Linked DNA regions of Homo sapiens: regions 1 and 2 are each linked to region 3. The links come from fine-mapping of genetic effects on gene expression. A gene starts in region 3. Each other region holds a variant in brackets. All regions are shown on one strand. Distances are between the middles of the regions. Region 1 overlaps TYW3 (tRNA-yW synthesizing protein 3 homolog). Region 2 overlaps ERICH3 (glutamate rich 3). Region 3 holds the start of TYW3 (tRNA-yW synthesizing protein 3 homolog).

The links.
Region 1: its variant is fine-mapped to the expression of TYW3 in whole blood (TOPMed, PIP above 0.99).
Region 2: its variant is fine-mapped to the expression of TYW3 in whole blood (INTERVAL, PIP 0.91).

What each region holds. Positions count from the first base shown.
Region 1 is chr1:74,766,070-74,771,300 of GRCh38, forward strand. It overlaps TYW3 (tRNA-yW synthesizing protein 3 homolog), which reads left to right. Exons shown (of 6, transcript NM_138467.3): 6 at 1-608. Among named protein-coding and RNA genes, the nearest start is that of TYW3, 36 kb to the left of the region's middle. The variant T/A (reference allele first, on the strand shown) is at 3,109.
Region 2 is chr1:74,651,881-74,657,111 of GRCh38, forward strand. All of the region lies in intron 1 of ERICH3 (glutamate rich 3), which reads right to left. Among named protein-coding and RNA genes, the nearest start is that of ERICH3, 19 kb to the right of the region's middle. The variant CT/C (reference allele first, on the strand shown) is at 2,580.
Region 3 is chr1:74,730,560-74,735,777 of GRCh38, forward strand. TYW3 (tRNA-yW synthesizing protein 3 homolog) reads left to right here and starts at 2,593. Exons shown (of 6, transcript NM_138467.3): 1 at 2,593-2,859. The coding sequence starts at 2,686. It overlaps CRYZ (crystallin zeta), which reads right to left and starts at 2,491. Exons shown (of 9, transcript NM_001889.4): 1 at 2,397-2,491. RefSeq lists enhancers at 1,288-1,577, 2,173-2,883, 2,438-2,727, 3,108-3,207.

The sequences.
Region 1 (5,231 bases), 36 kb after region 3:
CCTGAAAAATTCCTATTGCTAGTGATGTGGTCATTGTAAAGCTGTAGCACAACACATTACCCACGTTTGTGGTGACAGTCATATAAAAGTATGGTACATATAATTATGTACAGTGCATACATAATACTTGATAATATGTTACTGGTTTGTGTCTTTGCTATGCTTTTTATCATTATTTTAGGGTATACTACTTAAAATGTTAACTGTAAAACAGCTTCTGACAGGTCCTTCAGGAAGTACTCCAGAAGAAGGCATTGTTATCATAGAAGGTGACAGCTTCATGTGTGTTATTGCCCCTGAAGACCTTCCAGTGGTACAAGATGTGGAGGAGGAAGACAGTGATACTGAGGATTCTGACCCTGTGTAGGCTTAGGCTAATGTGTGTGTTTATATCTTAGTTTTTCACAAAAAGGTTTTTCCAATGTTAAAAAAAATATATAAAAAAGCTTATAGAATAAGGATATAAAGAAATATTTTGTACAGCTGTACAATAAGCTAAGCATTATTACCAAAGAGTCAAAAAGTTTTAAGAAATTAAAGTTTATAAACCAAATGTTCATTGTGAGCCAAGGTTAATTTATTGAAGAAATAAAACATTTTTAATGAAATTTTGTGTAGTCTTAGTGTCCAGTGTTTATAAAGTTTATACAGTAATACGTTTATACAGAACATCCTAGGCCTTCACATTCACTCACCACTCAGTGACTCACCCAGAGCAACTTCCAGTACTGCAAGCTCCATTCATGGTATGTGCCCTGCACAGATGTGCTATTTTTCACCTGTTATACTATATCTTAATTGTACCTTTTCTATGTTTAGATATGTTTAAATACATAAATACTTATCATTGTGTTACAATTGCCTACAGTAGTCAGCACACTAACATGCTGTACGGGTTTGTACCCTAGAAGCAATAGGCTCCACCATGTAGGCCCAGTAGTGATGTTTGCGTGACTAAATCACCTTACAACCCATTTCTCAGAACATGTTTCTATTGTTAAACAACACACAACTATTTTATTTATGTGTTTTATTTATGCCTGATCACCAATATCAATAACTGAAACACAGCAGTTTAGTAATAATTTAATACACACCATAACCTGCCTATTGAGAATGGCATTATATTTGTTTTCATTGTAGTGGCTCCATCCAAAATAAAATGATTTTTTTCCTTCCTTCAGGATGAAGGCAAGCATTTATTCCTACGGTCTGGATTCCTCATATCACCTACAAGTTAACTGCTTTTGTGTTCTAAAAGAGAGAGGAAAAATGAAGTCAACCTTATTGAAAAACAAGGAGGGAAACTAAGGAACATGCTTTTGCTTTTGAGGTTCTAGGCCAGAAGTCATAAGCTGTAACTTGTCCAAGTTATGGCCAAGCAGATATGTTTTGTTTGGCCCACATGGAGTATATTTTTTCTAATTGAATCAACATTTTAAAATATGATGATTTAATATTTAAAACTATAAAGCGCATCTCTAGTTTGTTTTGTGTGTGTTTTTTTAATTGGAAGATCTGGCTGGAGCCGTCTCACATTCCCACAGGACAACACTTAGCCGTTCAAGTACTAGCTCCTCCTTTTGGATAAGACTTGTTTTCCTATTCACCCCAGACCCAGCACCCCCTACTGGTTCCCTGACACAACTGCTTCAATCATTTACACATTGTTTGGTCCCTGTGGGCACCAGCATTGGCAAACTTTGGTTAGATCTTTGGGGAGAATTAAAGTCTATTATTATGTTAGTATATTATATAATAAATAAGAGATGGGAGCAGGATCAGCTATATAATTTTCAAAGGACAGTGCAAAATGAAAATGTGGGACCCTTAAAAAAGGTTTAAGAATTACAAGATGGCAACAGCGGAGCACTAAATCACGTACAGGTACATCTAAGCACGGGGCCCTATGCAAGCTGCACAGGTTGCACATACGTGAGGCTTGGTGCTTTAAGGGAAATGGGTGCCTTCCCACTCAACTGGGTGTTTAACCCTCCTCCCCACATTGAGAAAGAGGCAGAGTGCTGCAGATTCTGTGATGTGCCAGGACTTGACTCCTGCTCACATGTGGCGCCCTTGGGTTCCAGGACAATGGGTAGCTGTTTGGAAGCCTGCAAGGGTGGATGTTTTGGAAGCTAGGGCAAAGATCTCAGTGGCTACCCTTAGATGGAGTAAACCGTAGTCCTTTTCAGAGCCACTTGATTTCAAATGTGAGCAAAGGCAGTGATGAGCACCACGTTTTGAAAACAAGGGCTTTCTCCATTTTGAGATGAGTTATATGATTTGCTGGGTTAAGTGTTGAAGAGCCATGAAAAATGATCACCATCTTTATTCTTATAGATGGCTCCTTGAGCAGGCTTTAATTTGACTGGAGTTGCGGGGAGTAAATATTACACTCCCATATAAGGTGTATAATAGTGACTATTTTTTAGTTATGATTTTTGGCTTTTAAAAATGGGCTTTGACCTTCAAGCCTCTTCTTTCCATACTCTACTGGGCTTCTGTCAACATTCACGCTTCTCTAATGCAATAGGATTTTAATATTCACAAATGCTAATGTTTTTAAACTTAACAGTCCTTTAATGTCCTGGGTTTTTATGCATTCTATTCTTGCCAAGCAAGAATTTATGAGCCCTTTTTGGTTTTGCCTTTAATGTGGTTGAATTTAAACTATAACTTTAACTCATTGCAAATTTTATTTATTTATTCATCTATTTTAATAACATTTTTTGGAACAGTTTTAGGTTTACAGAAAAATTGAGAGAAAAAGTTCAGATAGTTCCCATGTACCCACTTCATCTGCCCACACATGATATCCTTTATCTTATATATCCTACATCTTACATTAGTGTGGGACTTTTTGTTACAATTGATAAGCCAAGATTGATGTTTCTTGACTAAAATCCATATTTCATGCCTCTCTTCATCTCTCTTCAATTCTGTTCTCTCCTGTAACTATTAGTCTATTAGTCCTATATTATACCTACTTATGGGCCTATTCTCCATATTGTCTAATCTTTTCATCCCCCTTCACCAGCTTCTCTTCATCTCTATGTGTGTCATTCTGTGTCATTCACTCGGGTTATTGTTTAGTTAACTCATACCCTC[T/A]TCAACTGTGTCTAATCTACTGCCTAGATAGTCCATTGAGTTTTACATTTCAAAGATTATATTTAATTATTTCTAGTTCTTTTTGGTTCATTTTCAAATCAGAGGCAGATTATTTAAAGGTTCTAATAATTATTTCTTTCTATATACCTTTTCCCAGATATTTCAATAAATTATATTTACACAAACCTTTCATACACTTGTATATTATAGAAATGATCTATGTTCTTTAGCTATTCCAAGGATAATTGAAAAGAATGTCCTCACCACCACCAAATCTAAACCATGCAAGAAGAAAGTGAACTATTTCTCAATAACCAGATTGTTTACATGCCATTTTTATTATTTATTCATTTACATGACAAATATTTTTTGAGCACCCACTATATGTCAGTCACATGCAACAGGACAAGGACTCTGCCTTCATAGAGCTTTCCTTCTAGTAACATTATTAAAGATTTTGTTTGTATTGGCACTTGCCTAGGATCTTTAGTGCTCTTTAAATTTTACTCATCAATCAGGGCTCAGCTCAAATGTTAACTCTTTTGAGAAGCTTTCCTAAAAGCTCATTTCATAATTAACTTCTTACATTCCTGTTTTTCCATAGCACTTTCCCAGTACTATATATACATAGCATTTTGTTTATACTTACATAACCACACAAACCAAGAAATCTCTTGGTAGCTATTAATTGCATACATATATATCTATCCATCACCACCATCATATTAAACTTTGACTAACTGAGGGACAAAGCTGTTTTTCCAATATTTTTATATCCCCAGCATCTTGGACGTTGTTGTTTTTTTAACAACTACTTTCTATTCTGGTTTATAAATGCATTGTAGCTGGGAGAGTTCATGAGTATTATGTAATTCATTATTTTATAAGCAAATGACAAAATCCCTAACCAAATTATATTACTATTCAATTCTTGAAGGAATCTTGAAATTGATAAAGTTAAATGACTGAAGTTAAAAAAAAGATGCTTAGAAGCCACTAAACACATGCATAATACTATTCTTTATATCTCACAAAATATCCAAATTTCCAGATGTTAGTATTCCAAGATATACCTTGTGACTAAACATGATAGGTCTTGTCTTTCTTTTTTCACACCAAGCCTTTTGAAAGCCTTTTTATTTTGAAATAACTTCAGATCTACAAATAAGTTATAATAGCACTAAGAATTCCTGAATATACTTTACCCAGAGTGACCATTCTCTCTCTCTCTCTCATATACAGACATACAGTACATATGAATAATCTCATATAAATATACAAACTTTTGAGAGTAAGTTAAATATATTTTACTCTTCACTCTTAAATATTTCAATGTATATTTCTTTAGAACCAGGAAAGTCTCATATAATCTCAGAAAAATTATAAAATCAGGAAATCTAACAGTTATACAACATAATTATATAATCTGCAAAACTTATCCAAATGTCATCATTTGTCCCAATGATATTCTTTGTAGGATAAACTGAATTGCATTTTGTTTCATATTTCTTTAATCTTGTTTAATAGTACATAATTGGTTATAAGCCTCTGCCTTTGATAACATTGACAGGCTTGAAGAATACAGGAAAATTTAATAGCCATCGATTTATATTTTTAATATTCATTTTTAACTAGGTTCAAACTATGCATTTGGAGCAAGAATATTATATAAGTGATGTGTTCTTGTCAAAGCATGACTTCAGTGGGTACAGGATTTCAGTTTGTCCCATTATTGGTTATGTTAACTTTGATCTCTTGGCTAATGTGGTGTCTGCTAGGTTTAATGGTAATTTTCCCTTTTGTAATTAATAAGAAATTTTAAGGATGCTCTACTTTGAGAATATGTAAATAACCTATTTTTATCCAACTTTTACCCACTAATTTCAGCATCTGTTGATTATTCCTCTCCAAATAAGTTATTACTATGATTGCAAAATAATGATTTGTTACCTCCATTATTCCTTCTACATTTATTAATTGGCATTCAACTTTAAAAGACAGCTTTGCTTTCACACACTCTCCCCACATATGAACTCATGGATTCTTGTTTGATTCAAAAGGTTATAATCCATTGCTATCATTATTTATTTTAATGTTCATATTATTCCAGATTTGACCAGTGG
Region 2 (5,231 bases), 79 kb before region 3:
TAGCCAGCTTTGGTAGCACCTGATTTTAATTCTGCTCTCTCGGGCTTCTACTAACAAATGTGTGCACGATGCCTGTCCAGGCTTACAAATCGTCAAGCAGGTCCAGTTGGGTTGAAACCTTTTTACACATCATCTTTTCCTATTTAGGAATAAATGTGGGTTCTTGCTTGGGATACCACTTGTAAGCAACTCCTTCCACAACTATCACCATATGACTAGCTTGGTAGGACAGCTGAATAATAACCGGCTCAGTTATTTCATTTTTAGACAATGCTGGAATTTTTTTAACTGAAACTTTACATTACTAAATTGTTTGATATCAAGAAATTGCTCTAAAGTAAATTATATACAGATTTGGTAAAATGGTCAATTCAAGCATTTCCACTGCATGCATATACATGTGACCATCTTTCTGACCATCAAGACTCCTTTCCAGGGAGATGGTCAAATGCTGCGTGGGCCAGTGTCAGCTACACTGTGGTCTGGCTGATCCTCTCTGTTCTGGTCCTTTTCACCTGTACTTGATATGCGCTTGTAGCCCATTTTCACATTTACCCAGTTACAAGAGCTCACTGACCAACACAAACTCAGGTTAGCAGAGCTTTTCTGAAATTCCACCCTTTTCCTCTGCGTTCAGTGCTACTTACTCCCTTCACTTTTCTTTTCTTTTTTTTTTTTCTTTCTTGCTCATGGCATAACCCTGGGCTGACTAAGGTCACCTTGCTCTGGGCTTGGTGATTGTGTTGCAGCTTGTATGTTACACTCTGCATCCAGTGTCAACACTAGACTTCCTGGTCGTGCTGCTTCAGGCCTGTGATCCTCCACTGCACCCTTTTCATCGATTCCGTTGGTCACAGCAAGCACCAGGGCATTGTGACCATATTACTCGCAGGCTATGTTGTCATGCCAAGACCCACAAGTCACTGGCCAGACCAGTCTAACACGTTTGTTTCTTTATGTGATGAACAAGACTATCTACCCATCCCCTGGTCACTAGGTGGGGGAAAAACCCACTTCCTGGCTCAATGCACTGGGGAAAACAGTCTCCGAGGAAACAGAGCAACCTTGTCTCCATGCTGGTTCCTGTTTCCCTCACTTCAGTGCACACACCACATCCTTCAGGGCCTGAAGTTTAGAGGAGCCAAAGCTGAGTCACCGGGGTGCTACCTTCCCAGCTGCGGCCTTTCAGCACTTAACCCTCTAACCCTGCCTCCCACCATGTAATATATAAATGTGGCTCTGTAGTAAAGTCAGTGATTCATAACAATCCCTTCTCCTGATCCCAAAGAGAGATAGTCTACCATATAAAAATCCCAGCTAAAAGGAAAGGCACTATAATAGTTTTTTTAAATCACAAAAGCTTATTGTTTAATGACTAATTTTAGGTTATTCTGTAAGGCATTAGGGACACAGAGATGGCACAGACACTGCACTCATGGAGCTCCCAATCTAGTGGGGAGATGCACACACTAGATACACACTGTGTGTGCACGTGTGTGTGTGTCTGTGTCTGGGTATGTATGTGAGAGAGAGAGAGAACGAGAGAGAGAGAGAGAGAGGAGAAAGAGAGAGAGAGGAGAAAGAGAGAGAGAGAGTTCTTCCCGTATCATAAGCTAATTAATTACCAAGTATCTCCATGTCAGGCACTGAATCCTGAGCTGGGGAAGGAGTGTAATATCCATATTCCATTTTGCAGATTACAAAGCACTCTCACATACATAGTCTCATCTAGTTGTTTTAGACCCATGTAATATGAACAATATCTAACTATTACAGCTCTTTTATCTTACTAAAGTGGAAAAGCTCCAAAACAAGATTATTGCTTAATGTGAGTCAGTTTTAGGAAAACCTAAGGCAATATTTCTTTATGGATCACATTGATAATGTTATTTCTTCTGGCCTGAAGCACCCTGTAACTCTACCCTCATCTCTCCCTGTACTACCCATCCCCACACTGTCTACATTACCTTTGGGGATGAAAAGAGATAGAGAAATGCCAACTCTAGCTTCAGTTCAATTCTGGCTCCACCATTACTGGCTCCATAACTGTGAACAAGTGACCCTCTGCCTCAATTTTTCTGCCTTTCAAAAACACTAGTATACGAACACAGTTCAGCCAATTCTTTGTCAATTTATTATAAGATTGCCTTTTCTCCCATTTCAAATAACATGTTCCTCATTTCCATTTGAAACCTCATTAAAATGACCTTTACCATCTGTATTTCCACCAATATTCTGTTTATTATTGTTTATGTAGTCTCTAAGAAGATGGAGGTTTTCTCTCGTTTCTGAGTCCTCACAAGAATCACCTTTAAAAATTGCCTCATGGCAATCTAGGCTTTTTCTAGCATGCACCTCAGAGCTCTTCCAGCCTCCACCTATTATTTAGTTCCAAAGCCACTTCCACATTTTTAGATATGTATATCCTACTGTTAGTACCAACAGTATATATGTATATCCTACTGTAGGATATGTGTATATATATATATGTATGTATATATGTATATCCTACAGTAGGATATGTATATCCTACTGTTTCTCTTAGTTTCTTTGGGGCTGCTCTAACAGAATACCATAGC[CT/C]AGGTAGCTTAAACAAACACTATTTTTGGAGGCTGGAAGTCTAAGATCAGGGTACCAACATGTTTAGGTTCTTGAAGAAGACCCTCTCCCTTGTTTACAGATGACAGTCTTCTCATCGTGTCCTCATATGGGAGAGAACAGAGAGAGAAGCAAGCTCTCTTGTGTCTCTTCTTATAAGGGCACCAATCCCTCATGATCTGATTACCTCCCAAAGGCCTCATCTCCAAATACTATCACATTGGGGATTAGGGTTTCAACATATGAATTTTGGGGAGACACAGACATGCAGTCCATAATAGAAGATATGATCATCCCCATTTTGTAGATGAGAAAAACAAGCCTTAGTTTAAATCACTTGCCAAAGACCATATAACCTAAGGCTTATTCCTGCTAATATGTAACGAATCATAGTGAAGAGCACTCATCAGGTCTTGCTAATGTGAGGGATACAGTATGCTAAGTATAATGATGGAAAAATGTGAATGGTGAAATATTCACAGAGAAATATAATCCACCCAATTCTCCACTACAGAGATAGAAACCTTTTAAATAAAAATTCTTACAGACTTATATTAACAAATACATAACTTTCCTTCATAATTTTAGCATAAAAGCAATGTGCTGAAGTCTTAAATTCAGCTAATCTCTTAAATATATATTCCTGCATCCTGCTTTGCACTAAAAATTTCCTCAAAAGCATACTTGTTTGAAGAGATATTAAAAATAATTTTGGTTCAACCAGGTTAGTTTTATTTAACCCAAATTGTGACTTATTCCATATAAATTAATAAAGTGTTCATTAGTTTCCCATTGCTGCTATAACAAATTACCACATACTAGTAGCTTAAAACAATACAAATCTATTCTCTTACAGCTCTGGAGGTCAGAAGACAGAAACGACTCAAATTAAGGTGGCATTCCTTCTGCAGGATCTAAAGGAGAATCCAGTTATTTTTCCCTTCAATATTCTGGAGGCTGCCTACATGCCTTGGGTCCTGGGCCCTTTCCATTGCCAAATGCAGCCATGGCTGGTCAACTATTTCTCACAATGATATCTCTCTGGTTCTGGCTCTTCTGCCTCCCTCTTCCCCATTTAGGGACCTTTGTGATTACATGGGGCCCACCCACATTAATCCAGAATAATTTCCTTATTTTAGGTCAGATGATTTACAATATTAATTCCATCTGCAACTTTTATTCCTCCTTTTCATGTAAAGTAACAGATCCACATGCTCTGAAGGCTAGAATATGGACATCTTTGAGGGCCATTCTTCTATGTTCTGCAAGGTCTCTCCCATAAGCCTGATGCCAGGAGCAGAAACATTGGACACTGAATGTGATGGTGATTGGACTGTGTCTTAGCCCATTTAATGCTGCTGTAACAGAATACCACAGAATGGGTAATTTATTAAAAAATAGAAATTTATTTCTCACAATACTGGAGGCTGAGAAGTTCAAGATCAAGATGCCATCATCTGGTGAGGGCCTTCTCCCTTCTCACTGCATCACTGAAAGCTTTCCCAGTTCCTTCACTTTTTTTCTGTATCATGACTAAAAATCAGAATGCCTTCACTGCTTTATGACCCAACCAGCTGTGGGTTTTGCCCAGCAGGCCTGAACCCAAACTGAGGACTTGAACATTCCCAGGCACTGAAAAAGTTATCTGGGTTTCCTAGAAAGAAACTGGCCCGGGCTGTGAACCAAATTTCCTAAAATTTCATATAATCTCCATATACCCAGGCCCCCTCACCATGGACAACCTAGATAGCACATCCCTTTTCTCTCACTGTTCATTGTGAGAATATGCTGCAGCACTCTCCATCTAGGTTGCCTTAATAAATGCTTTGGACTGATGACCTTGGCATTTAGTGTTTCTTTCTTTGGAATCCCAACTGGCCCCATCACAAGATATTTTGAGGCCCTCCCTTGTGGGAATTCCTCTACCATCACTTTTGAAACAACTCCATCACAAAATAGTCATCGCATGGCGGAAGGTGGAAGAGCAAGAAAGCACACCCATTCCCATGAGCCCTTGCCCTCGACTTGAGTTCCAAATCTAATTCTACCCCTTATAAGATACATGACCCTCAATAATTCAATCTTCTTTACCTAGCCATTATCCATCAAGTAAAATGCTAGGACTACTCCCTGAAGTGAACATCTCAGTTTACTGGTCTGGAAATATATTTGCTTAAAGCTTCATCATTTTTGGAATATAGAAATTCACATGTGAAAATACCCACATAGAATCTGGCAAACTCCCTCATTTTACATTCAGGAAGCTGAGGTTCTAAAAGTAGGGAGGGTTCATCAATAAATCAATAAAGAACATGCCAAAATGTCACAGGAGTTCCCATAAAATTGTACCTATCTCTTTCCTAGGGTCCTTGTCTCACCACCTTCCACCAGAATTTCTTTCACCCATGTTTAATCACTGTCTTCAGACTCATGTAAAATTCTCTTCTTGTACACCCTCCTATAAGGTGTTGTATGGAGCTATGCACACAGTAAACTGTCACAAACCCAGCCAGGATTTGTTGAGTAAGTGTACAAATCAGTTAATGGAAACAAAGCATATTGGTCCAATTCCTTGACATATATCCTTTTTTAAAATCCACATGTGAGGATAATCACCTTTCTTTTCTGCTTCT
Region 3 (5,218 bases):
CAGGTAGAGAAGTTATTTAAACTATTATTTTATGCAGAAGTAAAAATAAAATCGCCATCCATTTTATGGATGAGAAAACATCACAAGAGGTTAAGAGACTTGGTCAGGGTCACACAGAAGCAAAGCTAGAACCCAAGTCCTGTAATTAAATGGTGTTAGCTGATTTTTTTCTTTACCATCCTTTTCATCTCACCCTTTGAGATGCTGGCATATAAGACCCTTTACTTCGTAGAAATAAACTTTACAATAGTGATAGTGAGACAGATTGAGCTAGAAAATGTGAAATCAAACTAACCTGCAGGTAGAATCGCATATTTTATGACTAAGGCATCTGCTTAGAGTTTGAAATTTCTCAAATGCCCACTAAGTCAGGGAATGCAGCAGAAATACAAAGGACATGATTCTATTTTTAAAAATGTATAAAAAAAAATTACTCCCTAGCATCGGATCCTTGTGAACAGGACAGGCCTTTCCATTGCTTGTGCTTTTTAATTAAACTATACTTCAAATAGGCCTTCCTGTTTATCAAATATAAACTTTTAAAAATTAAGAGTCCCTTGGTTTAATTTTTGGTTTAATTTTACCTCTGAAAGGTTGCCAATATGCCTTACAAATCTAGGAAATAGAAAATCTAAAATCCCTCTTCCAACAGTGATCTTTTTCCTGGCTATGCTTGTATCCATTTGATTTAAACGAAAATTAAAGGAATTGGGAAAATGTTAGGAGTATATTTTAACATAGGATGAACAGATCAAGTCACAAAGCCAGAGCAAAGGAACATTATGAGACAAGAGCAAAAGTAAAATTAAATAAGAATTCTGGCAAGAATTTTAAAAACTGAAAACTTAGAAAAAAAATCAATCATTACAAATTGTTCTGCTGCTAATACACAATGACTCATGTAAGCATATGGTTTATTATTAACCCAGAAATGTAAAAAAGGCAAGAATTACAAGTGGTCAGAGAAAGTCTCTTCCTGGCTGTGTGATCTTATCAGGTCACTTCTGTTCACTTGAGATAGGACGGGGTAAGAAGAGGGGAGGAGTTTAATAATTTCGGACTCCTCCAGGTTCCATGATCGTATGGAACAGGGCAGTCTGTTCCCTAATGCTGGAGGAGTAGAGCTTGGAGAGATTTGCTGCTGAACTCGCTGCGCTAACCAGACACGTAATCACAGTGGCTTCAGAGGGACTCGCACAACAATTTCCATTAGCTACGGACAAGCATTCCAAACTTTAGCCTTTAGGTTTAATCATTGACACACCTTCCCTGGTCACTGAGTCTCCTCTAGAAACTCAGTATAAACATCCAACGATGTGTTAACAGGGTGTTTTGTAATTTTCTTTTGAAGATTATTCTAGGTGGTGGGCGTCACAGGGTCAATAAAACTATACATTTCTCTCAAAGACTGCAATCCTGATGGCAAAGCTGGAGGAAGCTCCGGGAAACCTGTAATTGTGGGAATCCAAGACAAAAAATCCCCCACAGCTGGGCTGTGGGAAGGGGCCCTACCTAGGAGAAGAAATCAAATCCCCTACAGCTGGGCTGTGCGAAGGGGCACTACCTAGGAGAAGAAATCCCCTACAGCTGGGCTGTGGGAAGGAGCCCTACCTAGGAGAAATCCCCTACAGCTGACAGGTGGGCTGTGGGAAGGGGCCCTACCTAGGAGAAGAAATCAAATCCCCTACAGCTGGGCTGTGCGAAGGGGCACTACCTAGGAGAAGAAATCCCCCACAGCTGGGCTGTGGGAAGGAGCCCTACCTAGGAGAAATCCCCTACAGCTGACAGGTGGGCTGTGGGAAGGGGCCCTACCTAGGAGAAGAAATCAAATCCCTACAGCTGGGCTGTGCGAAGGGGCCCTACCTAGGAGAAGAAATCCCCTACAGCTGGGCTGTGGGAAGGGGCCCTACCTAGGACAAATCCTCTACAGCTGAGAGCTGGGCTGTGGGAAGGGGCCCTGGACAGACCGCTGGGCGCTGCTGCAGGAATCCCCAAACCCAGGCACTGGCTGCAGGGAAAAATCAAGCGGGTGACTGGCGGGGGGGGGGGGGGGGGGTGCAGCGTGGGGCTGGGGGACAGGGAGTGCGGGGGGCGGAGGCTGGGCAGGGGTAGTGCCAACGGACACCTCATGGTGTGGTAGCCTAAACTCAGAGCCTAAACGCAGGACCAGGGCTAGGAGCCCAGGACCAGAAGGCAAAACTTCCTACCTGATTTATGGATGGGAACTTGCAGCCCCTGGAGGGGAATGGCTTCGGTCTGGAGCTCTACGCACTAGTTCTCTGGGAGGACAGAGGGCAGGAAAGGGGTGCAGCCAAAATCAAACTCGGTTCCACTTGGACGAGCAGTGGGGAGATTCGCTGTCTAAACAACTAAGGAGAGTTTTTAAAACCACTTACCAGAATCTAGAGTGGGAATTAAAATCTGCGTGGGCTTCTTCAGATTCCACAGAAATGAGGACTGCCACACCTTCTCCAACTTTTGCAGGCTCCACCCAGGATGTGCGCCTCGCTCCACCCAGGATGTGCGCCTCTCTCCACCCCTAGGCGAAGGCACTAGAATTTCCCAAATTAAGAACGAAGAGGAAGTTTGGACCTTTTCGGCCACCGCTCGCTTCAATATGGCTGCCCCCAGGGAGAGACGAGGCTACCATGAAGGAGCCGAGCGCAGACCCTGAGTCCGTCACCCATGGATCGCAGCGCGGAGTTCAGGAAATGGAAGGCGCAATGTTTGAGCAAAGCGGACCTCAGCCGGAAGGGCAGTGTTGACGAGGATGTGGTAGAGCTTGTGCAGTTTCTGAACATGCGAGATCAGTTTTTCACCACCAGCTCCTGCGCTGGCCGCATCCTACTCCTTGACCGGGTGAGGCCCCTTTGCGCCTGTCCATCGCCTGCCTTCTAGTGCGAAACTTCAGGAGCCCTGTTCCCATCCAGTGACGACCGGATCCAGCATGTCTGTGTTTGCTCCTCTGAGGGGTGGTCTCTGTTTCTTTATATGTGAAATTTAGGGGATTAGATCAGTGCTTCTAAAAGTTTAACGTGGCTATTAATCAGCTGAGCATCTTTTAAAATACAGATCCCGATTCTTTAAGTGTAGGGTAGGGCCTGATACTGTGCATTTCTAACAAGTGCCCAAATGATGTTGAAACTGCTGACCTGGGAACTATCTTGTGTGGCAAAGTTTAGAAAATTTGATTTTATTATATGAATACTAAGGGAATCTAAAGACTTTGTAGCTTGCTAAGGTATTGAATGCCGGAATCCGCTCATCAACAGCTCTGGCAAATCATTGTTACTGCATGCTTGAACATCACCAGTGTTAAGGAGTTTACTGCCTCCTAGTGAGCCCCTCCATTATTACAACTCTAGTAGTTTTACGCAGAGAAAAGTACGATCGTATATAATTTAGGATGGTTAGACTTTTTTTTTTAACTTTATGATGGGTTTACAGGGGTAGTAAATGCATTTTGACTTACATTTTCCACTTATGACGGATTTATTGGGATGTAACCCCATCATAAATCAAGAAGCAGCTGTACAAGCCATACCTCCTTATTTGCAGGTTCAGTTACCCCAGTCAACAGCAGTCTGAAAATATTAAATGAAAATTCCAGAAATAAACAATTAGTAAGTTTTAAATTGCATGCTGTTCTGAGTAGCGTGATAAAATCTTGAGCCAACCAGCTCCTTCCAGAATGGAAGGTGAATCATCCCTTTGTCCAGAATATTCCACTATATATTCTTGCTGCCCTTTAGCTGCTTGGTAGCCTTCTGGGTTATCAGATCGACTGTGGTGGTATCACAGTGCTTGTGTTCAAGTAACTCTTATTTTACTTAATAATGGCCCCAAAGTACGGGAGTAATGATGCTGGCGATTTGGATCTGCCAACAGTAAGTTTTAAAGTGCTTTTTTGAAGTGAAAAGGTGAAAGTTCTTAAGGAAAGACTTAAGGAAAGAAAAAACAGCATATGCTGAGGTTGCTAAGATCTACGGAAAGAATGAATCTTGTCAGTGAAATTGTGAAGTGAAGAAGGAAAAAGAAATTGATCTGAGGTTTCAGGCATCCACTAGGGGGTCTTGGGACATATCCCCTGAGGATAAGGCTGCTTGGGAGTGATACTGCTTAGATTAAAAACCACGGGCTATGTGACCTTAGGAAAGCTATCTCAACTCTGCCCCTTCCTGTTCTATGAACTGAGGATAATAAAAAGTATCTGCTTTATAGGGATTTTGTGTGGAGAAAATAGGATAATTTTTTTTGAAATATTTGGCTTTGTGCCTGGCCCATGCACTGTAAAAGTTGGCTGTGTACTGATTTTATTCGTAGTATTGGCTTAAGAGCATGGAAGACAGCACATTGTTAGGCTCATTCTTTAGGTCCATTATTGACTGATCATTTATTTGCTGATCTCTCAAGTTAGCAGGGCCTGTTCATTTTTAAATCACTTCCATCACCTTCAGAGCAATGGCATTCTTGCCCACAAACTCTCTCTTGCCCCATTTCCATAACTCTGTCTCGCCTTGATTTTTGCAATGGTTCTCTAACAAGCCACTTAACTATTCTTCTCCAAACCATGTTTGACAAATTGCAACTCTGCTTATCTCTCACCTATGCTATGTTTTATTACACATTTTTCTACATCAGAAAATCCAAATGCTTACTCTAGTATACCTTTCAACCTTTTTTTCATTGCTTTTCTTCATCTTTAGCTAGTTACTGAAACTAAACTGTTCTTTTCATCTTGTATTTACTTGCTTTTGCTCATGTTTTTTGGCGGTTTTTTTCCTGAAATGTTTTCCTATCTCTGCATATCTGAGACATGATTCCCAAAACTCCCCTCTCCCACCTGAACCCACAAACACATACTACCTACTTGGAAGTAATGACTGCTTCTGTACTGGTTAGACTTTTATTTCTTATCTTACACCTCGTATTATGGTTTATTTTAAAATCTGCCTTATTTCAGTAAGGATTTGGGGCAACTTACAAACAGGCAACACAAGAAAAAATAAAAAGTGGGAAAATCTGGATAAAGAAAATATAGATAAGATGAAGCCAGCGATGGCATTAGTTGCCAATCCCACCACTAGATCCTGTAAAGTTGCTAGAAGTGGGCCATACATTTGGCTCTAAGATTCAGAGTAGCCAGCACAATGTCAGATACGTAAGTCACCATCACCGAAGTCATACAATGAAGTCAAAATATTTATTTAGGACATGC